Homo sapiens: one gene and its partners. The protein of the gene in region 1 interacts with the protein of each later gene in a biochemical or structural test. Each region holds a gene or a part of one and is shown on either strand. Other genes may lie near its edges.

The links. The genes of interacting proteins can lie anywhere in the genome.
Region 2: the proteins of STAT1 (region 1) and SIRPA form a complex in vitro, tested with the Homo sapiens proteins (one study listed by BioGRID).
Region 3: the proteins of STAT1 (region 1) and MCM5 form a complex in vitro, tested with the Homo sapiens proteins (2 studies listed by BioGRID).

Annotation. Positions count from the first base shown.
Region 1 is NC_000002.12:191,010,904-191,019,222, reverse strand, and holds the start of STAT1 (signal transducer and activator of transcription 1-alpha/beta), read left to right. Parts: upstream 1-5,051; 5' UTR 5,052-5,205; intron 5,206-5,544; 5' UTR 5,545-5,698; intron 5,699-8,319. UniProt on the Homo sapiens protein: Signal transducer and transcription activator that mediates cellular responses to interferons (IFNs), cytokine KITLG/SCF and other cytokines and other growth factors.
Region 2 is NC_000020.11:1,911,858-1,919,579, forward strand, and holds part of SIRPA (tyrosine-protein phosphatase non-receptor type substrate 1 isoform 1 precursor), read left to right. Parts: exon of another isoform or gene 1-2,465; coding exon of another isoform or gene 2,466-2,544; intron 2,545-3,241; coding exon 3,242-3,598; intron 3,599-7,722. UniProt on the Homo sapiens protein: Immunoglobulin-like cell surface receptor for CD47. Acts as docking protein and induces translocation of PTPN6, PTPN11 and other binding partners from the cytosol to the plasma membrane.
Region 3 is NC_000022.11:35,409,591-35,417,312, forward strand, and holds part of MCM5 (DNA replication licensing factor MCM5), read left to right. Parts: intron 1-1,153; coding exon 1,154-1,320; intron 1,321-2,919; coding exon 2,920-3,091; intron 3,092-4,284; coding exon 4,285-4,396; intron 4,397-6,238; coding exon 6,239-6,382; intron 6,383-6,748; coding exon 6,749-6,814; intron 6,815-7,047; coding exon 7,048-7,224; intron 7,225-7,722. UniProt on the Homo sapiens protein: Acts as a component of the MCM2-7 complex (MCM complex) which is the replicative helicase essential for 'once per cell cycle' DNA replication initiation and elongation in eukaryotic cells.

The DNA.
Region 1 (8,319 bases):
TTTGTAGCTGTCATTTTGAAATAGATCAAGGCTGTAAAGAAAGCACAGAGCCAGTAAGTTTTTTTTAATAGGAATGTGGTAAGGACACAGATAAAGTATTCCTTAAGGATGAGAGACTCCAGGGGAAATTCCCATGGTTGGGAAGGGCAATGGACCTGTTCCACTTAATTAAGTTCCACTTACTTGTTTTAGAATTCAGTTGTAGGATGTTTTGCTTCATTTCATAAATTCTTTATGAGTGATCTATTGCTGCATAACAGACGAAACTATTCCCAAAACTTTGGTAAAACATCAACCATTTATCAGTGCTTGTGAGTCTAGGGTATGCTGGGGAGTTCAGTTCACCTGGGTCAGGCCCCCACTTTATCTTGCCTGGGTTCTCTCATAAATCTGAGGTCTAAACTTGAACAACTACTGTGATTCAACTGTGGTCTGTGTGGTCTCTCATGCTCCTGCAAGCTAGCCGGACTTCTCATGGAGGCTGGGCAGGGTTTTGAGAGCGGAGTGTGTAAGGCCTCTTGAGGCCTAGACTCTAAATGTCACAATGTCACATCTGCTGCAAGGTGGGGAAATAACAGAGCAGGGAATAATCTGGCCATTATTGAAAATCATTGATCAGGAGAGCCTTCTTAGTTTCAGTTTCATATAATGAAAACTACGTAACTGATATCTTTTTGCCCTGGTTTGCAGGCTGTACTGTATTCTTTATCTAGTTATTGTAGATATTTCTGCTATAAGTTGCTTTAAAATGCTTTGTGCAACAAGGCAGATAAACTAAGTAAATAGAACTGGATGATTTGGGTATAAAAGAAACAGTGAGTGAAGAATAGGAATGATACTGTCTTTTCTCCAAGCAAAATACAGTTCCTCCAAATGGGAAGTGTGGAGTAGTTCTTAAGTCTTTCTACTGTAACATCATGTGAACTTATGAGTTACTCCGGTGACTTCACATCAGTTACTCATCATATAATAGTATTTTCTGGATTCCTCACTGTCCTTGACTCTCCTTTGTCTGTACACCAGTTCAGGGGTGGCAAATAGGAAATTTCACCTTACCTGTTGCTTCTGATTGATTGCTGGTGACAGTGTACCCTGTCATTTGTTGCTCTTTTAAATCCAATACAAGTAGTTGCATTTATTGTTTTAAATGTTGTCCAGTTGATGGGAGGCTGAGGGAGGAGAATCGTTTGAACCTAGGAGGGGGAGGTTGCAGTGAGCCAAGATCGCGCCACTGCACTCCAGCCTGGGCGACAGAGTGACACTTGGTCTCAAAAAAAAAAAAAGTTATCCAGTTGAGGCCAGGCACAGTGGTTGACACCTGTAATCCCAGCACTTTGGGAGGTCAAGGCAGACAGATCACCTGAGGCCGGGAGTGTGAGACCAGTCTGGCCAACATGGCAAAACCCTGACTCTACTAAAAATACAAAAAATTTGACGGGTTTGGTGATGTAGGCCTATAATCCCAGCTACTTGGGAGGCTAAAGAATGAGAATCGCTTGAACTCAGGAGGCGGTGGTTGCAGTGAGCCGAGATTGCACCAATGCACTCCAGCCTGGGCGACAGAGCGAGACTCTGTCATCAATACATACATACATACATATATACATACATACATAGTATCCAGTTGGTTTCAGACCAGCAGCAGTCCGTTAGAATATTTAGATTATTTAGAATTTTGATTTAGCGTGGGAACCTGAGGCATGCTGTCTCCTAGCAGAGGGAAGGAGCACACAAGAACAAGTTGATTACAAAGAACACGCAGTTTCAGGACAGATGGTATATACATCACAACTGTTCATATTCCTTTATCCAGAACAAGTCACATAGCCAAGGTCAGAGTTACAGCACACAGAGAGGTATACTCCACCCTTAGTGAACCATGGCAAGCAGTGGGAAGGGACAGAAGAGATTTGAAAATAGTACAATCTACAGACATAGTGTTAGCTGTTTTTTCTAGTTTTGTGTCTTTTGCAAATCTGACATTGTTGATATATAGATATAGCTTTCCAAGCTGACTGTTATAAGGCAACCGTCACACATTTGTATCTGTCAAATTCTGGATTTCTAGGTTTTTGTTTGGCTTTGGTTTGATTGCTTTTTGAAGCAGTCAATATGTTATACAGTAAGAAAATATAAATAGTTTATCCTTCAGGAATATTGAATCTTGGAGGCATAAGGATTGGACACTTCAAAAACCATAATATTAGAGAGTGTATAGTTATTGTCCAAATAAATAGAGACACATATATTATTTGGTCATTCAGAGACCCCAGATTAATTGCTACAGGTTGAGGTGGTTCTAGAAAGAGAATATAGTATTTGGGCTGGGCTTTAACAGGTGAATAAGAATTTGGTAAGTGAAGAGAGTGAGGAGCAAGACTTGCCATTCAGTATGTACAAAGGGGCAGAAATCAGGAAATTAAAAGCATGGGGGGAGTGCTGGAGCTAGACGAGGTTAGTTGGGAAATGCGACAATGATAGAAAAGGCTGGAAAGAAGGAAAGAAACATTTTGTGGAGGATCCAGACTAGCAGACAACATTTGTGTTTATCATATGTGCAAGGAGAGTTGTTAAGGCTTTTGAGCAGGGAATGACTATATCAATGCAGTATTTTAAGGAATTGAATTTGGCAAATATAGTGAAGGAGAAAGAGACAAGAAAAAGGTAGTATACCTAGAGATTAGCATAGCATTCCAATTCTCAAGTGATGAAGGCTTATGGTAGGTATTGCTGTGGATGCTAAAATAAAGGGGGGTAGGGAAGGAAGCATCCACAGATCTTGATGATCCAAATTGGGATTTGGAGTGCCAAATAATCCTATTTGCAGATGTTAGGATTATTCCATTCCTTCATCAATATTGAAGCTAATATCTGTGCAAGTTTTATAGTACCAGAAAAAAAATTTTTAACATGTAATCTACCCTTCCTAGAGTCAACTTTTGATATAGTTTGGCTGTGTCCCCACCCAAATCTCATCTTGAATGATAACTCCCACAATTCCCACCTGTCATGGGAGGAAACTGGTGGGAGGTGATTAAATTATGGGGGCGAGACTTTCCTGCGCTGTTTTTGTGATAGTGAATGAGTCTCGAGGATCCGATCATTTTAAAAATGGGAGTTTCCCTGCACAAGCTCTTTGCCTGCCGCCATCAATGAAAGATGTGACTTGTTCCTCCTTGCCTCCCGCCATGATTGTGAGGCCTCCCCAGCCATGTGGAACTGTAAGTCCATTAAACCTCTTTATTTTGTAAATTGCCCAGTCTCAGGTCTTTATTAGCAGCGTTAAAAATGGATTAATACAGCTTTTTTCAGAGAACAGTAAAACATTGTCTTGGTTCTTGGGTGAGTAAGAGCAGAAGGGACACTTTTGGTGCCGTGGCATCTCTTGGCAGAGAAGTCTAATTTCACTGCTAACTTGCTTTGTGAGGGTGCATTTGTGACAAGAAGAACAAATAGATGTGCAAAGAAAAAAAACTCATACACACACATATAGGCATATCCATGGGAAATTATTCAGATCCTTCTCCTACCCCAAAGTGCCTAATTATTCAAGGCTTGACTCAAATCCCGTCTACTTGAAGGAACTAATTGATTTTATGAGCATATAGTCCAAAAAGATTTAGTTTGTCTGGCTTCAGCAATGCCTACCTGGAGAAGTGACATTTAAGCTGAGATTTTTAAACTAAGATCTAAAAGATGAGTTAGCCAGCGAAGAGTTGGGTGAAGCAGATGTTGGCTCAAGGGGTTTTCCAAACTCAGGGTGAGAAGTCCCTGAGTTTGGAGAGTGTGGTTTATTTGAAGAACTAAATGCTGAAGTAAGCAAAGCAGAGTGGCACATTATGGGGTTGGACAAAGAGATCGGGCAACCAGGGCTTTATAGTATGTATTAAGAAACTGAATTTTATAAGAGCAAAGAAAAGCCATGGAAGGATTTTCAGGTTGGCAAATGACATGATCTGCTTTTCAATTAAAAAAAAAAACACTCAAACTCTTGTATGGAGAATGGATTAAAAGGTAGATAAGGGCTGAAGTGAGGCAGCCATTCGGGAATCTACTGCAGAAGGAGGCAGCAGAAGAGATGGAGCAGAGTAAATGAGACTTGGGAAATATTTAGGAGGAAGAATCAATTAAGATTTGAGGATCAGGTGTTGCGAGGTGAGGGAGAAGGCAATGTCAACTATGAATCCTAGGTATCTGTCATGTGCCATTTCTAGAAAAAGAGCAGGTTTGAGGAGAAAGATGTTTGGTTCTGAACATAGTTTGTAGAGCTCACTGCACATACAAGTGGAGAGGCAAGTGGGAGTTGTAGGTGTGAAGCCCAGAGGAGAGGTGTGGACGGGATAAGCATTTAAGACTCCTCCATCTAGAAGGAAACTGAAGCTGTGGGTGAGGTCATCACAGCACAGCGTTTAGGAGAAGCCCAGGTAAAGAAGCTGACGAATGTCTGGACCCTGACAACCTTAACATATAATGGTTTGATAGTGGAGGTGGAGGCAATGTAGAAAGAATGCCAGAGGCAGGAAAAAGCAAGAAGGATGTGTTATCATCATGACCAAGGAAGAAACGTGTTTCAAGAACAAAGGCGTCAACTCTGCCCCATGCTTCCGAGCTGTCAAGTAAAGTGAGAAAAACAGAAAAGCGTTCCCTGGGTTTAGCAACACGGAGGTCAGTTGCTAAAGGGAGCTTCTAGAATGACGACGTCGCCAAATCTGTCCTCTGCCTGGATTCTCGGCGATGAAACTACTACAGAGACCTCCAAGTTTGGGCTTCTGCAAACACAGCACGTCCTTCTGATCGTTCTCTAAGATATGTAAACAGAACGCCAGTTCCCAGCGTGGCAACACGGGACTGGGCTGCAGCTCACCCAGCCGGCGGCCCCCGCCGGAAGCCGGCGGAAATACCCCAGCGCGTGGGCGGAGCAGCGGCCCGCAGAGGGAGGCGGTGGCGCCCACGGAACAGCCGCGTCTAATTGGCTGAGCGCGGAGCCGCCCGGTGATTGGTGGGGGCGGAAGGGGGCCGGGCGCCAGCGCTGCCTTTTCTCCTGCCGGGTAGTTTCGCTTTCCTGCGCAGAGTCTGCGGAGGGGCTCGGCTGCACCGGGGGGATCGCGCCTGGCAGACCCCAGACCGAGCAGAGGCGACCCAGCGCGCTCGGGAGAGGCTGCACCGCCGCGCCCCCGCCTAGCCCTTCCGGATCCTGCGCGCAGAGTGAGTGGCCGTGAGGTTCCGGGTGCCGGGGGTGGGACGCGCAGGGACAGAGTCCTCGGGCCGTGCAGTTGGACGCCGGGCGAGGACGGGCCGTCTGTGCTGACCCGCGAATAGTGATCCCAGAGGAAGAACGCGTCCTGAGTATTCCAAGTGCGAGCAGTGCCACCTGTTCTCGGAGATGGCACTGCTCAGCACGATTGTCCTTGCCAGTCGTGCTCTGGCAGTGAAGAGGACTTGTGAAATATAATTTTCCTCTAGAAGGCACTGCACCTTCCCATTTACCGTCACTTTCTCCCGTTTCCACCCCTTTCCATCAGTCACGTTTTCTTCTTTTCGCAGAAAGTTTCATTTGCTGTATGCCATCCTCGAGAGCTGTCTAGGTTAACGTTCGCACTCTGTGTATATAACCTCGACAGTCTTGGCACCTAACGTGCTGTGCGTAGCTGCTCCTTTGGTTGAATCCCCAGGCCCTTGTTGGGGCACAAGGTGGCAGGTCAGTAAATGTTCATGGAATCAGATGAATGAGTACATGACTTCGGAATCTTAATTATGTTTCTATGTTCAAAGATGGAAGGGCTTAATGTCTTCCTAGAGTTTAAAAGTGATGTTTAGTTTTTGCAGACCCCCCACCCCAAAATAATATAGTCTTAAAAAAATTTCTGGCCGGTACTGAAGAGTTCTGTGGTAGGTATGCAGAGGTGTGGTTGATTGTGCTTTGAATGTTGTTTGTATAGATAAGGAGTTATTTTCATAGAACAGAAACAGGACTTGAGCCTCCAGCACAGTCCATTGTGCAACCATTGCTTAATGAGGATGCTGGACTCACACTTGTGAGATCATAATATGGTTTGCTTTTTACTTTCTAATTCCGTCTGAAATATACATAATTTCAATTCAACAAACTGTTTCGAGCACATAGTATATGCAGGGCACTGTCCAAGGTCCATAAGATGTTAAAAAGCAAAATACCCCACTACTCTACCCCCTCCCCACCCACCTTCCCCCGCCGGGGACTCTGGAGGCATCACAGAGCTTTACAAGGAAAACTGGAACCGATGCTCTAATAGAGGTACAGAATTCAGTGAGACGCAAGTCAAAGAAAGCTTAATTGTGAGTAAGTCTCAGACAACTTTATGAAAGAAGGGGCTTTTGTACATAGCTTTGAATGCTATAGGATTTAGAGACGCAAAAATTTGTGGAGAGGCTGTTTCCAAGGGCGAGTAGCTGGAGCAAAGCAGAAATGTTGGGCACAGTTGAAAAACAGTAAATGATTTGGTGACTGGGTTGCTTTGTTGATGGATGAAGATGGGGTGGGGTGGAAATCTGCCTAGGAATGGACAGATCATAGGATTTTTGCACAGGAGATTGATGTGGTCCAATCTGTGGGCAGCAGAGGCTGGACTGGGAAGGTAGAATGTTGGAGACAGGAAGGAGCAGGTCTTGGGATGGAGTGGAAGGAATCAACCCTAAATCTGAGATTTGAGCTCAGTGACTGGGAGATGGCCATGCCACTCCCTGAGTTGGTAACAGGTTTTGTGAGTAGATGAGACTGACTCCAGATTTGTGAACATGAGCTTATTTATTCATTGTTTTTTTTTTTTAGAGACAGAGTCTCTCTCTGTCTCCCAGGCTGGAGTACAGTGGCGCGATCTCAGCTCACTGCAACCTCCGCCTCCTGGGTTCAAGCAATTCCCCTGCCTCAGCCTCACGAGTAGTTGGGACTACAGGTGCACACCACCATGCCCTGCTAATTTTTTTTTGTATTTTAGTAGAGACAAGGTTTCACCATGTTGCCCAGGCTGGTCTTGAACTCCGGAGCTCAGGCAATCCGCCCACCTTGGCCTCCGAAAGTGCTGGGATTACAGGCGTGAGCCACCTGGCCAGCCCAAACATGAGCTTATTAATTCACCTCTTCTGTGCCAGGTGCTACATATGTACTAGCTCAACCAGCCTTAAGAACCAACTGTGGCAGGGTGCGGAAGCTCACGCCTGTAATCCCAGCACTTTGGGAGGCTGAGGTGGAAGGATTGCCTGAGGTCAGGTGTTTGAGACCAGCCTCAGAAACATAACGAGAGGCTGTCTCTACAGAAAATTTAAAAATTAGCCAGGCTTCTTGGCTCGTGTTTATTGTATTAGTCTGTTCTCATGCTGCTATAAAGAACTGCCCGAGACTAGGTAATTTATAAAGTGAAGAGGTTTAATTGACTCACAGTTCTGCATGGCAGAAGGCATCTCTTCACGGGGCAGCAGGAGAGAGAATAGATGCAAGCAGGGGAAATGCCAGTGGCTTATAAAACCATCAGATGTCATGAGGCTCACTCATTATCACGAGAACAGCATGGGGGAGACTGCCCCCATGATTCAGTTACCTCCACTGGTCCCGCCCTTAACACATGGGAATTATATTACAATTCGAGGTAAGATTTGGGTGGGGGCATAGAGCCAAACCATATCACTTGCAGTCTGAGCTCCTTGGGAGGCTGAGGTGGGAGGATTGCTCTAGTCCAGGGGTTGGAGGCTGCAGTGAACTGCGCTCCACTGCCACTGCGCTCCAACCTGGATGACAGAGCAAGTTCCTGTCTACTAAACACACACACACACACCTTGTTGATAGGGGAGTAAGTTACCTGGGTTCGCTTGGCTAATAAGAGGCGTTGCAGCTCCCATTGCCTGACGGTCCAGCATATCTGCTTTAGGTAGATCCTTATTAGTTACCAAGCAGGGAGGGAGACAGCCACAGATTTTTCCACTCAGGTAAAATAAAACTGAACTGAAAAATCAAATTGCTTCAGCAGGAGTGCCAAGGGGCTGGGCTTGGGTCCGTTTCTACTGGTATATATGAGGATAACTAGCTTTATAGGCCAGACATTTCCTCACACTCCTTTGGAAGGACATTTGTGGAGTAGGCGTGACCTCATGCCTGCATACATGTGCTCGGCTACAAGTATGCATACACACTCTTCCATGCCCTACTTGAAAATCCAGACTCCTTCCCCAGAGGTCTGGCAGGACAAGATTCACTTGTGTCTGCTCTGCATATTGCCACCTGTGTGCTGATATAAATCCTAAGTTACATGATGGTCATGGGAGACTCTCCGTTTTCCTAATGAATTT
Region 2 (7,722 bases), on another chromosome or scaffold:
CAAGTGACCCCAGACCCAGAGCCAGGAGTGATTTTTAACAAGCCTGATTCTCAGAACAGAACCTGCAGAGAAAAAGAAAGCAAGCAAGGAAAAAAAAAAAAAAACCCCTCTCTACTGGAAAAAACATACACATACACAGATTAAAATAATATTTGGCACTTACGTCGCACTTTTAAAATTCTTCAAACGCTTTATAAACACTAGCTAATTAATTAAGCCGCCTAAATCTGGCTGCAGTCGGTGGAGAGAGCTCGAGAGGAGCTAAAAAAAAAATGGGGGAGCCAGCGCTACACAACTCCAGATTTTATTGTCGCCTGCCTGGGGTGTGATTACAGGCCTCCGGCTGCACCACAAGAATAGCCCTGCTCCAACATGCTGCACGCCTGACTCCGCAGCCTCTCCTGCGCCTCCTGCTCCCTCACCAACTGCTGACTCACAGCCCCTTGTGGTGTTATTGATAAGGATAATAATAACTGCAAGCCAGGCTGAGTCCCGGGCTCCGGGCCTGCACCCTCCCCTGGATATGCCAGTATCAACTCCACCTAACACATGAAGAGAGAGGAGATTTGCCCAGGGTCATGGAGCCAACGACATCCTTCCTTCCTTCATTCATTACCGCATTCATTCTGCATATTTTTATCGATGACACTGTGTTTTAGGCAGGAGGTTGGAAACAGTCCCTTGTGGATCCTACATCCTACTATTGGGAATGTGACAATCCAGAGAAAATCAAATATGTGAATAATACAGCTATGTGATAATAATGGGAATAAGAATTAAAACTTACCCAGCACCTATGCAGCAGGCATACCACCGTGTCAGGGTCCTCATGACTGTGCTGGGGTGGATGCCGGAACCCCACTTCATGGATGATGGAATGGGGGTCCAGGGAAGGTGGGTACAGAGGTGGCTAAGAGGGGAGCCATGCTGTCACCCAGGCCTGCTGGCCCTAGCAACTGTGCTTCCCCGAGGCAGCCTTTCCAGTTGGTCCAGTCTCGAGGCTGAAATACAGACCTATCCGGAAAGTTCCTAGCTCAGTGCTGCTGGTGCTGCCTCTGATGTCCCCGCCTGGATGGGCCTCCCGGGCCTCCCACACATTTGGCCACCAGCCTCACCCCTCTCAGGCCGTCTGATGCTGGCTGGGCCTCTGTCCACTGTGGGTTCTGTCTGTCCACTGTGGGTTCTGTTTTTTTCTCCTGTGCCATGAAGATCTTGCCATGTTCAACTTCAAATGGAAATGAAATGAGAAGCTGGACTTCCTGATAATAAAAGCAGTTGAGGTCTTAAGTGGTTGATCAGGAAAAGGAAGTCGAAATGGTAATATTTACACCCAAAGCAGGTGGAGTGGTCTTAGGCACTCTGAGACTCCACTCACCTGCCATGAGAACCGGGCCCCAAGGGTGATCCCTTGCCAGAGTCAAGACTGGGTGAGGCTGGGAATGGGAGAAAGAGGCAGGACAATGGGCAGATAGCCCTGGGCTTCCTGCAGTGAGGGCAGATAGGGGTCTGTGAGCCTCTTTCCCTGGCTGCCCTGCCCCTGCCAGTGGGGTGGTGCCAGGCCATGGGTTGGTGGGCAAATTCACAGGGTCTCTCTCCTCCCCAGCCAGAGCCAGAGGGGCACAGCAGCTCTGGACATCTGCCGCAGCCTTGTCTGATGTACAAGGCAAAGGTGGCCCAGGTCAGGGCAGGACAAGGTCACATGAAGGGTCAGTGGAGAGCCCAACTGGGGCCCCAGGTCACCTGTCACCTGCATACCAGGTAGCTGCCACTCCTCTGTCTACCTGGTTCTCTCCTTCTCCCCTATTCTAGCTCGCTCTCTCACTCTGCGTCTGTCTCTCAGGCATGTGTTTCTCTGAGGTCTTTATGATCATGATCTTTCTTTTTTTTGTTTCTTGTACCTCACCTTGTTCAGAATCGAGGCCCTGGCTCTGCCTTGCTCTGAACTGTTCTCACTTGGTCCCTATCCATCTTCAACGCATCTCATGACAAGCTCGTCCTGCCCTCTTCCTGTCTGGGCTCCCCCCGTGCACCCCAATCTCTCCACCCAGGGTCCCTGTCTTGTGTGCCCCAGTGTCTCTGATTGGGGCTCAGGCTCCTGCAGCCAACCTCTACAATTCCTTCCAGCTGCCCATTTGGGAGCCCTTGAGGCCTGGACTGGGTCCAGCTCCAGTGTGTCCCCATCACAGTGAGGCCTGGATCACAGGGCATCAGCAGGTGTTGGTGAGAGTGAAGTTTGAGCCACAGCCACCTCCTTGTTTATTCAATGTATAGTAACAACAACTTCCTCAGGGCCCATCTCAGGGCTAAGTGACTTCTATGTGTGATCTCGTTTTCTTTTCAGAACAAAGCAGAGGCCTGGGGGCTGTTCTACCCATCCTGTAGATAAGAAAACTGAGACTCAAAACTGATGGATAAATTAAGGTCCCACAAGAACAAGGGGCGAGCCAGGTTTCAAACCAGGTCCGATGACTCTAAAGACCAGATGCTGCATTTGGACGCTGTCCCCAGCCTTGGCTTATTTTATCCTCCCAGAGATCCATCGAGGTGGGGTCATAGTAACTATTTTACAGATGAAGAAACCAAGGCTGAGAGCAGTAAGGGCAAACTAAGGGCAGCTCTTGCATTTGTGTGACACTTTGCTAGCCAGGCTCAGTCCTGGGTTCCAGGTGGGGACTCAAACACACTGGCACGAGTCTACATTGGATATTCTTGGTTACCTGAGTGGTGGCCCAAGGACACAGCTATAGGCCACTGATCCAGAACTCAAACTACATTCTCCTACTGCCCAAACCGCTGAGTACAGCCTCCCTTCTCGGGGCCTGCATCCTGGGCCAGGCCAGAAACAGAATCTTAACACCTTGTACAGCCCCAGATATGCCAGGCCCCTACCTCTGAGTCTTTGCCCAGGCTGTTCCCTCTGTCTGGAATACCAGGCTCCCTTCTGGCTCATTCAGATTAGAATTAGCCCAGCTCAGATGTGACTCTTCCAGAGAGGGTCCAGGCATTCAAACCCACTCTCTGCCATGTCATTTAGCTTTCTGTGCCTCAGTGTCCCCACTTAGAATACAGGCTCATGTTGCAGGTTTGTTGTGAGGGTCAAATGAGATGATACATGCACTATACTGATCTCACAGCCTGCTTCTGGTGTGCATCCAGTCAATGAACGTCATTGATAAACACTTGAGGAAACACAGAGGATCACGTAAGGATGAAAAAATGACTGCTTTGTGCTCCTTTCCAGGAGTGGCGGGTGAGGAGGAGCTGCAGGTGATTCAGCCTGACAAGTCCGTGTTGGTTGCAGCTGGAGAGACAGCCACTCTGCGCTGCACTGCGACCTCTCTGATCCCTGTGGGGCCCATCCAGTGGTTCAGAGGAGCTGGACCAGGCCGGGAATTAATCTACAATCAAAAAGAAGGCCACTTCCCCCGGGTAACAACTGTTTCAGACCTCACAAAGAGAAACAACATGGACTTTTCCATCCGCATCGGTAACATCACCCCAGCAGATGCCGGCACCTACTACTGTGTGAAGTTCCGGAAAGGGAGCCCCGATGACGTGGAGTTTAAGTCTGGAGCAGGCACTGAGCTGTCTGTGCGCGGTGAGTACAGCGTGGGCCTCCTTTGCCTCTGGTTTGTGACAGTAACTCAATAATAACACCCTCCATTCTTTGAGCAATGATCAGGTGTGGTGGTAGGTGCTCCTTTCCATGAATTGATGTCTCCCCCTTTTACAAATAAGGGAAGTTGAGGCCTGAAGACGTCATGCTATTTGCTGAAGGCTCCACAGCTGGTAAAGGGTGGGAACATCTGCATCCTTCATCTGCCTGGCTGTGTAGCCCTGGCCTCTTCAAAGCTGACCCAGCCCTTTCATTCCACAGATGAGGAAACTGACAGATAGTGTGACTTGCCCAGGCACAGGACCAGACCTCACCTGCTGCCTCCAGAGAGCACTTCCCTCTCAGGGCAGCCGAGTCTCCTCTATGTGACAGGCACTCACTGAGAACCTACTGTGTGCCAGGCTCCGCCAAGCTTGTGTTCTCATCCCTTCCAATAAGAGATCCACCCAGGGCAGGGAGCAGAGAGGGTGTGTTTCCTTTATTTCATCACCAAACACCAACTGAGAAGATTCCTAAAAGGCACAGATTTACTGTTTAATCTGATGGCCCTGGTGAGAGGAGAAGCCAGAGGGTTGGGCATTTTCTGTGGGTCTTTTAGAAAAACACTTGTGTGATTTAGGGACTGATTCATGCGTCACTAAAGGCTCTGAACAAAGCTGGGTCATCATAGAATGTCTCTCACCCCAGGGAGGAGGTCTCCCTTCTAGGTGACTTTGGGTTCCTCCGTTAAGGCAGCAAAGATGCTCATTTTGTATTTACTGCCAGAGCCCCAGGATCCTTGTTCTAACTCCGAATCCTGGGACATTAGTACAGGAAGGACCCTCAGACCATCCAGCCCAACCCCTAGTTACAGGTGGAAACTTGAAGTCAGGAGATGACAGGGGCCTTGTCCACAGTCATAGGCCCAGTTAGTGACAGGATCTGGACCAGAGCCCACATCTGATTCCAGGGAGGCTCCTTCATTAGCCATTGTTTACATAGAAGAGCCTGGTGCATCATAGGTGCCGACTGAAAGCTCCTTGAACAGAACTGCTAAGCAGGAAGCCAGCACTTCTCCTTTCCATCAGTTTCCTAAAGGTTCAGAATATTCACATTCAGACCGTTAGGCCCACTGGTGATTGGAAAACCGCTCCCAAATGTAAGCCATATCATTTGATACTGAGATTTCATATCAGGATAGAGACCTGCTCCATTGTGTAATAGCTACAGAATACTCCAGCTTATGGAAATACCAGATTTATTTTACCATCTTCCATTGATGGATACGTAACTTGTCCCCAAACTTGAACTATTAAAACAGTCCTGCAGTGGATGACCTTATACATGTGTGACCTTACTCAGGTGGGAGACGCCCACTGCAAGTGCCATTGCTAGATCAGAGGGGGTGTGTGTTTTAATGTGTGTGGATATGGCCTAATTTCCCTCCTAGACATTATAACAATCAAGTCTCCCCACAACCGCTGGACATAGGCAGGGAGGGTGGCTTTATCCTGATTGTGCAGATGTTACAGGAAAAGACGTTGAAGTTCCCAGATGATGCATCTCGTGCCTAGACAATCACAGCAAATACGTGGCTCAGGTGTGACCCAGATCTGCTGACTCCTAGCAGAGTGCTCACTCCTCTTTGCCATGCTGTCAGCCTAAATGATGCCCTGGATGAGAAAGGAGGGAGGTGGGAGGGGGCCAGGGAGCAGCAGCTGGATTGGATCCTCATCCTGGCACTTTCTCCTTTTATAACAAGTACTTATGAAGGAAGAGCCATTTCTTGCCCCCTTTACAGATAAGGACTCTGAGGCTCAGAGAGGAGACCTGTGTGGTGAGCCAGTGGGGGAGCCAAGGTTTGATCCCCACCAGCCTGACTCACAGCCCCTGTCTCTGTAACACTCAGCTATGCTTGTCAAAGTGTGGAGAAATGCTCCACCCTACTCATTCCAAACTCTTGCAGTTCTATAGCAATAAGCATAGGCTGAGGCAGGAGAATGCTTGAACCCAGGAGACGGAGATTACAGTGAGCCGAGATCGCACCACTGTACTCCAGCCTGGGTGATAGAGCAAGATTCTGTCTTGAAAGAAAAAACAAAACAAGTCCTATGGGAGTAGGAGGGACTGGCCCCCATCAGAAAGGTCCTGCAGATGTCTCATGATATGGGAACTTGTTCCTAAAGGACAGGTCTCAGCACATCACTGAGTAGCATCCATGGAGCAGAGTTGGGCCTCCTGCAGCCCAGCAGACCACGTGCCCACCTACTCACGGTGCTGAGGACTAAGGATGAGGAGATGAGGCATTTCCTGGTGGGTGCTTGGGGCTCATTGGAGCAAGAGTTTATATTATCCCCTCAGGCTGTCAGGAGCCCACTGACTTCAGTTTATGGCTATAGGGTAACCAGATCTGGGTACCCTGGAGGGAGGCTTCTCCCTAGAACTGCATGAAGTCAGGGATCTCAAAGGGAAAAAGGGAAGGTGGTGGTCAGTGTCAGGGTTCATGAAGTTCAGGCACTTGCTCAATTGATTGACATGAGAGCTTGGGGAACACTGGAAATGCCCATTGGGTACATGAGGGATGAGGAGACAGTGCCTTCGCTTTTCTCAGCCTCAGTTTCCTCATCTGTAGAATGGTGATAATCAGGGACTCCTTTGGCAGAGTGGAAAGGATTTGAGTTCCTGTGTATAAAACACCCAATGCAGAGTAGACACCCCCAAATCAAGGTTTTTTGTTTGTTTGTTTGTTTTTTCTTTTTTTTTGAGATGGAGTTTCACTCTTGTTGCCCAGGCTGGAGTGCAATGGCACCATCTCGGCTCACTGCAACCTCCACCTCCTGGGTTCAAGCGATTCTGCTTCAACCTCCCAAGTAGCTGGGATTACAGGGGCACCCACCACCACACCAGCTTTTTTTTTTTTTTTTTTTTTTTGTATTTTTAGTAGAGACATGGTTTCATCATGTTGGCCCGGCTGGTCCCAAACTCCTGACCTCAGGTGATCCCCCCACCTCGGCCTCCCAAAGTGCTGGGATTACAGGTGTGAGCCACTGCGCCCTGCCATCAAGGTGTTATTTTAAGATGTGTTACCTTGGGCAACCCAGTTCCCCTTGCTGAGCCTCAGTTTCCCCATGCGTAGAACGTCGATAATTGTACCAACCTTTCCAGGATGTTATGAGGATGCAATGAGCCTGGGGCGACGATAGACCTTAGTAAGCAATGGGGTTTTCCCAAGGTCATGTGATCTTGGGCAAATCCTGGCTTCCCTTGAGTCCTCAGCTTCCCTGTCTATGAAATGATGATGATGATTGCCAACCCTCACAGGTTCTGTGAGGATTGGAGAGGATGTACAGAGCCTCGGAATGGTGGCGGTGTTCGGGTTATCACTGAGCTCCTGCAGAAGTGTGGTTAGGAGAGTGTGGCCAGAGTCCAACTGCCTGGGCCACATCCCAGCTCTGCCACCTCCTGGCTCTGTGACCTGGGACAAGGCACTCCACCACCATGGGCCTCAGTGTCCTCACTTGTCAGTGATAACACCAACCTCACAGACCAGGAGTTGGGACCGAATGAGTTAAATCCTGTAGCGTGCTTAGGGCAGCAGGCGCCTGGCCTGCAGTCAATGTTCAACAGATGTGAGCTGTGTGATGCTGAAGCCATGCAACCTCAGATGGGTTAGTGCTCCTCCAGGCCTCAAGGATAAATGGTCCTTAGGATGTACTCAGGTAGTTTTCAATCTTGGCTGCTCTTTAGGATCATCTGGGAAACATTGAAATAAATCCCAGGCTCCACCACAGAAATGCCTCTTCAATTGGCCTGGCATGGGCCTAGGCATCTAAAGTTTTTAATTAATCCAGAAGATTCTAATACAGAGTCAGGACTGAAAACCCCTGGGATAGACACCCAGAGGTCACGGAGGACAAGTTGGAAAAGATGGTCCTCTTGGGGTGCCAGATGGGAGAACAGCTTTTCAGGGTGTGGATGCTTCTGAACAACGTGCACCCGGGACAGCTCTTTGGAGGCCCCAGTGGCCTGGCCAGACCCCCTCTTATGATACAGGCCTCGGGGGCCAAGGTAGGGGCCCCAGACAAAGCCCTGCTCAGATCCAGCCTCAGTGTGGGGAAACCTTCCAT
Region 3 (7,722 bases), on another chromosome or scaffold:
AGATTCTACTGAGGGGGAGAGGGTACTGAGCTTGGGCCCCTCATAGTAACCTGGGTGGAAGGTTTTGAGATCTTTGATTAGGGTTCTAACCTGGGCTTGCATATCCTGAAATTGCATGCAGATGTTCTGAGGAGAGCGGATCTGTAGCTTCTGTTAACTTCATTAGTGGCAACAGAGTATGTAGGGGTCAGGCTCTTGCTCCCTGGGCAAGTTATGTGACTTTGTCAAGCTTCAGTTTCCTCATCAGTAAAATGGGGATAAGGACAGTCCTTAATCTCTCAGAGGGCTGCTTGAAAATGCATGTGGTGTTTAGCACAATTCCTTCATGCAGATTACGTAATCAGGATGTATGATTTTCCAAGCAGTTCATGAATCCTGAAAACTTACGAAGTGGGTATGGGAAGAGGGGAGTTGGAGGCTCATGGAGTGACGGTGATGGTCTTTTCTGGAGCTGTGATGCCTGATGGTATAAAGCACTTCTATGTCTGCTGCCTCACCTGACTCCACAACATGAGAGGCAGGCCACTTCGTCATCCCCCTAGGCTCAGAGGTGCAATGACTTCGTTGAGGTCACACAGCGACTAAGTGTCCCTCCACACCACCCTGTCTCTGACTGGGGGACTTGGAGACTTCCCTGTTTCAACATCTCATTTTGAAAACAGGAAATGAAAACCCAGAGGCAAAATGAGCTCACAGAGCCATGAAGAGGCAAAAAGGGCGAGTGGCCCCTCAAGGAGGCTGGGGGGCGTGAAGAGGAAGTCTTGCCCTGAGAGGCTAAAGGGCACCACACAGTGAGCTGACAGCAGACACGTGGAGATGGGGCTTTTGGAGGGCTCTGTGGGCTGGCACTAAGCCTCCTAAACCAGCGTACAAATGAGTTAGCGAGTTCAGCGAGAGTCAGGCCACCACCTGCCTTTCTGTTTGGCTGTCACTGTGGGCAACACCATCCTCCAAGCAGCTGAGCATGGGCTGAGTGACGTGGGGAGAGAGGCCGTTCTCTGGGCTCCGTGGGGCTGGAGCCAGCTCAGCATGTGGTGCCTGTGGCAAAAATGCTGCAGTGGACCCTGCGTGTCCTGGGCATGGGTGGAATCAGAGACTTGCTGTCCAAGTCAGAATCTCAGCTTTTCTCCTTTCTCCTCTACCCTCCTCTCAGGTACCTGTGTGACAAGGTCGTCCCTGGGAACAGGGTTACCATCATGGGCATCTACTCCATCAAGAAGTTTGGCCTGACTACCAGCAGGGGCCGTGACAGGGTGGGCGTGGGCATCCGAAGCTCCTACATCCGTGTCCTGGGCATCCAGGTGGACACAGATGGCTCTGGTGAGTTGGCTTTGGGGTCCTGGCTTAGCCCTGCTAAAAGGCTGTGCTTGCATACTTCTGGTAACAGGCAGCTCGTTACTTCATGAGGTAGCCCAGGATGTCCTTGTGTTGCTCATATCATTAGAACGTTCATTTTTATATTAAGTGATCCCTGGAACTTCCACACATTGGTCCTAGCTGTGGCTCCTGGGCTGAGGGTGTTTGCCTAAGTGCAGGATTAAGGCAGAAGGACTGAGGTCAAATCACTGGGGAATTACTGAAAGCCAAGTCTTCACTTCTGTGACAGGAAATACAAGAGAAGTGAAACGCAGGGTTCCAGGCAGGCAGCCGCCTAGTGTCTAGTTGGAGAAATAAGAAAACTGTGAGACCGCTGGGGACATGTGGGTAAAGTGGTGGCTGTTGTGGGTCACGCAGTTCCAAGGAGGTGCTAAAGGAGGTCTGAGAAGGAGGAGGTCGGGGCTGGGCCTTGGGGAAGGTTTTCTGGGAGGAGGTTAATCTGAGCTGGGCTTTGAAGAGTGGTGGATGTGGAAGAACTTCCAGGCGGGAGGGGATGGCAGGAGCAGGTGAAAACCCCGGCCTGGGCAAGGTACTGAGTGGCTGGAGGGCCGAGTGGGAGTCTAGGGGATGAGGGGCCAGGTGGTGTAAGAGGCCTTGAGTGCCGAGATGGGGAGCTCCTGCTTACACCTGAGGGCAGCAGGGGCCACTGAGGGTTTTCAGGTTTGTTTCAGCCCTCTGGCTGCAGTGAATTGATTCAGAGGGGTGGCTTCCCCAGGGCTCAGTCCATGGCCCACCCCACATTTACACAAACTACCTAGATTATTACAACTTTAAAACCACTGACAGGTAAGTAGCTCTCACATTTCCATTTCTAGCCTGGGCTTCTCCCCACGTTCCAGACTTTAATAACCAACTGCTGATTTGACATGTTCACTTACATATCTGAAAGGCATCTCGAACTTTACATGGCTGAAGCTAAGCTCCCCTTTCCCCACCCTCAGACTGGCTCCTCTCAGTCTTCCCATCTTCACCCTTTCAGTTGCTCAGACAAAAACCCCCAAGTCACCCTTGGTGCTCTTTTCTCTCATCCCCCACATCTAATCACTCAGGAACTCTGGCCAGCTCCACCTTTAAAACGTGTCCAGGATCTGACCACTTCTCATCCTCCCCACCTGCTCTGAGCCCTTGTCAGCCCTCCCTGGATCACCGTTGATCCTCCCCAGTGTTCGTCTCCACCTTGCCCTACCTTCTCTGTTCTGCAGCAGCCAGTGAGCGATGCTGTCATGACCAAGACACTATATCACTCCTCGGCTGAAAGGGGAGACCTTCCAGTGGTTTCCAAGGTCCTATGCCATCTGGCCCTCTGTTTGCTCAGAACCCTTCTCCCCACTTCCCCTCACCCTTTGGACCCTGGAACACACCAGGCCCATTCCTGAGGGCTTGAGAGCTGGGATCTCTGTTTACTCAGATAGGTTGTGCTGTCCTGGCCCTAAGGGCCCTAAGGGCTCTGCCTTCTGGGAGGTCCCTGAGCTGGTGCCAGGATGGGCAGTGGGCTGGAAGAGCTCCCTTGTACTCACTCATGCGCCTGCTTTGCCTACCAAGGCCGCAGCTTTGCTGGGGCCGTGAGCCCCCAGGAGGAGGAGGAGTTCCGTCGCCTGGCTGCCCTCCCAAATGTCTATGAGGTCATCTCCAAGAGCATCGCCCCCTCCATCTTTGGGGGCACAGACATGAAGAAGGCCATTGCCTGCCTGCTCTTTGGGGGCTCCCGAAAGAGGTAGGGGCTTGAGTTCCCTTGGGTTTGGGGAGGCGGCTGATGATGGGGCTCACAGTAGGATAATTACTGGATAATCAGGACTGGGCACTCTTTTTTGTATTTCCTGGGCCCCTCAGTCTGCCAGGCACCTTTGCCAGCCCCCAAGCTTGCCATCAGCTGGCTAGTGGCTGATCTGCGCACCTGTCTCAGCGATGCCCTGACCCTGGCAAGGGGGAGACTGGGGGCCTGGCAAGTGCAGTGGGAGAGCACTGAGCTTAGGGTCGTGTAGGTACCAGGACTTAAATCTCAGCACTGAGCTTGGGGTCAGTAGCAGGGATATTATTAGCAGCTGCCATTTACTGTGTTCTTCCTATGCACAGCCATTCTTTGTTTTTTTTTTTTGAGACAGTCTCACTCTGTTGCCCAGGCTGGAGTGCAGTGGTGTGATCTCGGCTCACTGCAAGCTCCGCCTCTTGGGTTCACACCATTCTCCTGCCTCAGCCTCCCGAGTAGCTGGGACTACAGGCGCCTGCCACCATGCCCAGCTAATTTTTTTTGTATTTTTAGTAGAGACAGGGTTTCACCGTGTTAGCCAGGATGGTCTCGATCTCCTGACCTCGTGATCCGCCCGCCTCGGCCTCCCAAAGTGCTGGGATTACAGGCGTGAGCCACCGCACCCGGCCGCACAGGCATTCTTCTAAGTGCTTTATGTGTCTGAAGCCCAGTCATTCCTCACAGTAACCTGTTAACGCAGCTGTTGTGCCCATTTTATAGATGAGGGAATTGAGGCATAGAGAGTTAAAGGGACTTGCTCCCCAGCACATGCAGGGGAGCCAGGAGCCTGCTGTCATGGTGCTTGTTCTGCCGCACCGTGCACAGCCCACAGGCAGCTCTCTGTCCTTTTCTTTCAAGCTGGGAGGAACGTTGCTCAGATGCTGGGTGTACCCGAGCACAGCCATAAGAGCCATTTCCTTTAACCCTCCTCTTCTGGGAGGCAAGCTCTGTCCTCATTGCTAGGCAAGACCTACCATGGTTTGGGAACTACAGAGCTGGGTAGGAACATGGGTCTCAGGCCACAGCCACTACCTTCTTACCAACTCTGAGGCCCATGATAGTTGGGGGAGTCAACTGCCAGCCCACCAATCTGGTGACTGGATGTCACATGCGATGCCCTCATGGATTCTCACCTTGTCCATCTACCCTTCGTCCCCCAGGCTCCCTGATGGACTTACTCGCCGAGGAGACATCAACCTGCTGATGCTAGGGGACCCTGGGACAGCCAAGTCCCAGCTTCTGAAGTTTGTGGAGAAGTGTTCTCCCATTGGGGTGAGTGGCCTGGGATACCTTTGCCACCTTGGCTTGCAGGGAGGAAGGCTGCAGGGCAGGGCCTCTGGGTCCTCAGGACACCTGTGGTGGGCTGGCTCACCCGGAATCTCTTCCTCCTTTCTCTTGGCTGCGGTCAGGATGGCCGAGGAGATGGGAGGAAGAAGGGAGCCAACAGGTGTATGTAGGTTTGGGGCAGGGGGCGAGTACACTGTACTGAGAGTCAGGATGGGGTTTGGGTCTCACCCTGGCCAGAAATTGGCTGTGGGCTTTGAGTAAGTCACCCAATCTCCCTGAGCGTCAGTTTATCCATTTGCTAAATAATGATATTGTTATCATTAATAGCTAAAATCTGGCTGGGCATGGTGGTTCATCCCTGTAATACCAGCGCTTTGGGAGGCCGAGGTGGGCGGATTGCTTGAGCTCAGGAGTTTGAGACCAGCCTGGACAACATGGTGAAACCCTGTCTTTACCAAAAATACAAAATAACTAGCCAGGCGTGATATGCACCTGTGGTCCCAGCTGCTTGGGAGGCTGAGGTGGGAGGATCACTTAAGCCCAGAACGGGGAGGTTGCAGTGAGCCAAGATTGTGCCACTGCACTCCAGCCTGGGTGACAGAGTGAGACCATGTTTCAAATAATAATAATAAATAATAATAATAATAATAATAGCTAAAATGAAGGGCCAGACACTGCTTGAAGTACTTTGCATATATTTACTTAGTCTTCACCTCAACTGTGTGGCAGGTACTATTACCCCTGTGTTAGGGGTGAGAAAACTCAGGTACAGAATGGGTAAGTGTCTTGGCCCAGGTCTCACTGCTGGTAAGCATTAGAGCAGGATGTGATTGAACCCAAGTGTCTGATGAGCTGGGTCCTCTGCTGCGTTGTTGAATGGGTCTGCGGGGATCAGAGCCAGAGAAGGTCTGACATGATCCGAGTGGCGGGGTTGTATAGGGCGAGATGGTGGTCTTTGGATAGATAGGAAGTGTGCCAAATTTGCCACACTGGCACTGTCCAGTAGAAATAGTGAACTGCACATGCGACCCATGTATGTCTTCTCAGATTGTCTAACAGCCACATTAAAAAGTAGCTGGGTGCGGTTGTGTGCATACCTGTAGTCCCAGCTACTTGGGAGGCTGAGGTGGGAGGATCACTTGAGCCCAGGAGTTTGAGACCAGCTTGGGCAACATAGCAAGACCCCGTTTCAATTTAAAAGGAAGAAGGGGAAAGAAAAAAGGAAAAACAGGTGAAGTTACTTCTGTTTAACTCGCTATATCTAAAATCTCATTTCAACATGTTGTTTGATATGTAGATTATTGAGATACTTTACATTCTTAGGAGCTCTGAGTCTTTGAAATCGTGCGTATTTTGCACGATTAAGGACATCTCAGTTAGGACTTTCCCAATTTCAGGGGCTCTATGGCAGTATGTGGCGTGTAGGTCTATATAGAGACGACAAGGGACTCACGATGGGGGCAGGCTTTCCCTGGGAGTCAGGAGTCCTCATCCTAGCCCTGAGGCTAACTCCTCTTCTCTGGGCCTCAGTTTGCTCATCTGTGAGTTGGGCCTCACAAGACTGTGTCACAGGGCTGTGGTGAGGCTTAGGTGAGCCATGGATGTGATGCCCTCAGCGGGGAGAACATCTGGGCACACCGAGGCCCAGGGCAGCATCCCCTTCCAGAGGGAGACGCACTGAGTTGGAGCCTTGAGTCCTATTCTGTACCCTGCAGCCAGCTTTGATGTGTGACCTTGGGCAAATCACAACCTCAGTGGGTCTTTTTGTCTTATGGGGGTCAAAGCATGGAGTTGTTATTGGGCCCTGACACCACCCCACTGCCCCAGGTATACACGTCTGGGAAAGGCAGCAGCGCAGCTGGACTGACAGCCTCGGTGATGAGGGACCCTTCGTCCCGGAATTTCATCATGGAGGGCGGAGCCATGGTCCTGGCCGATGGTGGGGTCGTCTGTATTGACGAGTTTGACAAGGTGAGTCTGATGAGGTGGGTAGTAGCCAAAAGGTGGGTGGCACCAGGGTATGTGACTTCCTGTGCTCAGCCAGCAGAAATCACCTCTGACTTGGGAGACATGTTTTCAATCCCTGGGCCGGTCACTCTAGTAACTGTGGGAAGCTGCTTAACCTCTTCAAGCCTCAGTTCCCATATCTGAAGAGTGGGGAGAAGAAAGGCAAGCCCACACAGTTGTTCCCATGATTAGAGGTGACCTGGTTGCTGCCATTGGCCTTGCGTGGAGCTGGTATTCAGGAGTGAGGGCTGCTGTTAGTTTTCCTGTTTCTACTGCTCCCTGCTCCCTCACTTCAGTAGGTCTGATGATATTTCTCTCTTCCCCACTTAGATGCGAGAAGATGACCGTGTGGCAATCCACGAAGCCATGGAGCAGCAGACCATCTCTATCGCCAAGGTGAGTGGCCCTCCATGGAGAGCCCAGCCTGCAGCAGCCCAGCGTGGCCCAACCGTCCTCAGGCTGCCCTGATTGGGACCAAGTTCTCTTTGCCCAGGCCTAGAATCTGTGTGTGTGTGTGTGTGTGTGTGTGTGTGTGTGTGTGTGTGTGTGTGTGTGTGTGTGTGTAAACGTGTATATAAGAAGGCATCTTTGCCATCTCCTCCCCCTTTTCGTCGTCTGTCGCCTGTTAGGCTGGGATCACCACCACCCTGAACTCCCGCTGCTCCGTCCTGGCTGCTGCCAACTCAGTGTTCGGCCGCTGGGATGAGACGAAGGGGGAGGACAACATTGACTTCATGCCCACCATCTTGTCGCGCTTCGACATGATCTTCATCGTCAAGGATGAGCACAATGAGGAGAGGGATGTGGTACGTCCAGGGGCAGGGCTGGTGGCCATGGGACCTGCCTCCAGGCAGGCTTGTGATTGTGTGGGAAGGAGAATGGAGAACAAGGGCCTTGGCTGGCAAAGTCCTGACTGTCAGGCTGTGAAATTGGGGAGCACGTGAGAGGGCGGTTGTTGTGGACTGCAGAGGATTGAAGCAGGGTCTGGAGTCCTGTGGCCTGCTCTGCCTCTGCCGTGAGTGATAAGCTGTGTGATTTGGGCTAAATCAGTTTCTCCCTGGGCCTCAGTCCCTTATATATGAAACAGAGGAGTTGACATTGGGTTATGAGTAATAGAACCTCAGTTCTGGTTAGTAAATTTTTCAAAGAAAAAAACATAGTGGTTTATAGAATTGGTAAGTCCGGCGGCTTAAGGCCCAGGTAGATCTGGATTCTCAAACAACTGTCTCTGCCTTTCTGTTCTGCTTCCCTTGGTGGAATCTTTGTACTTGGGCAGCTGTTCCTCTTGTGGTGGCAAAGACAAA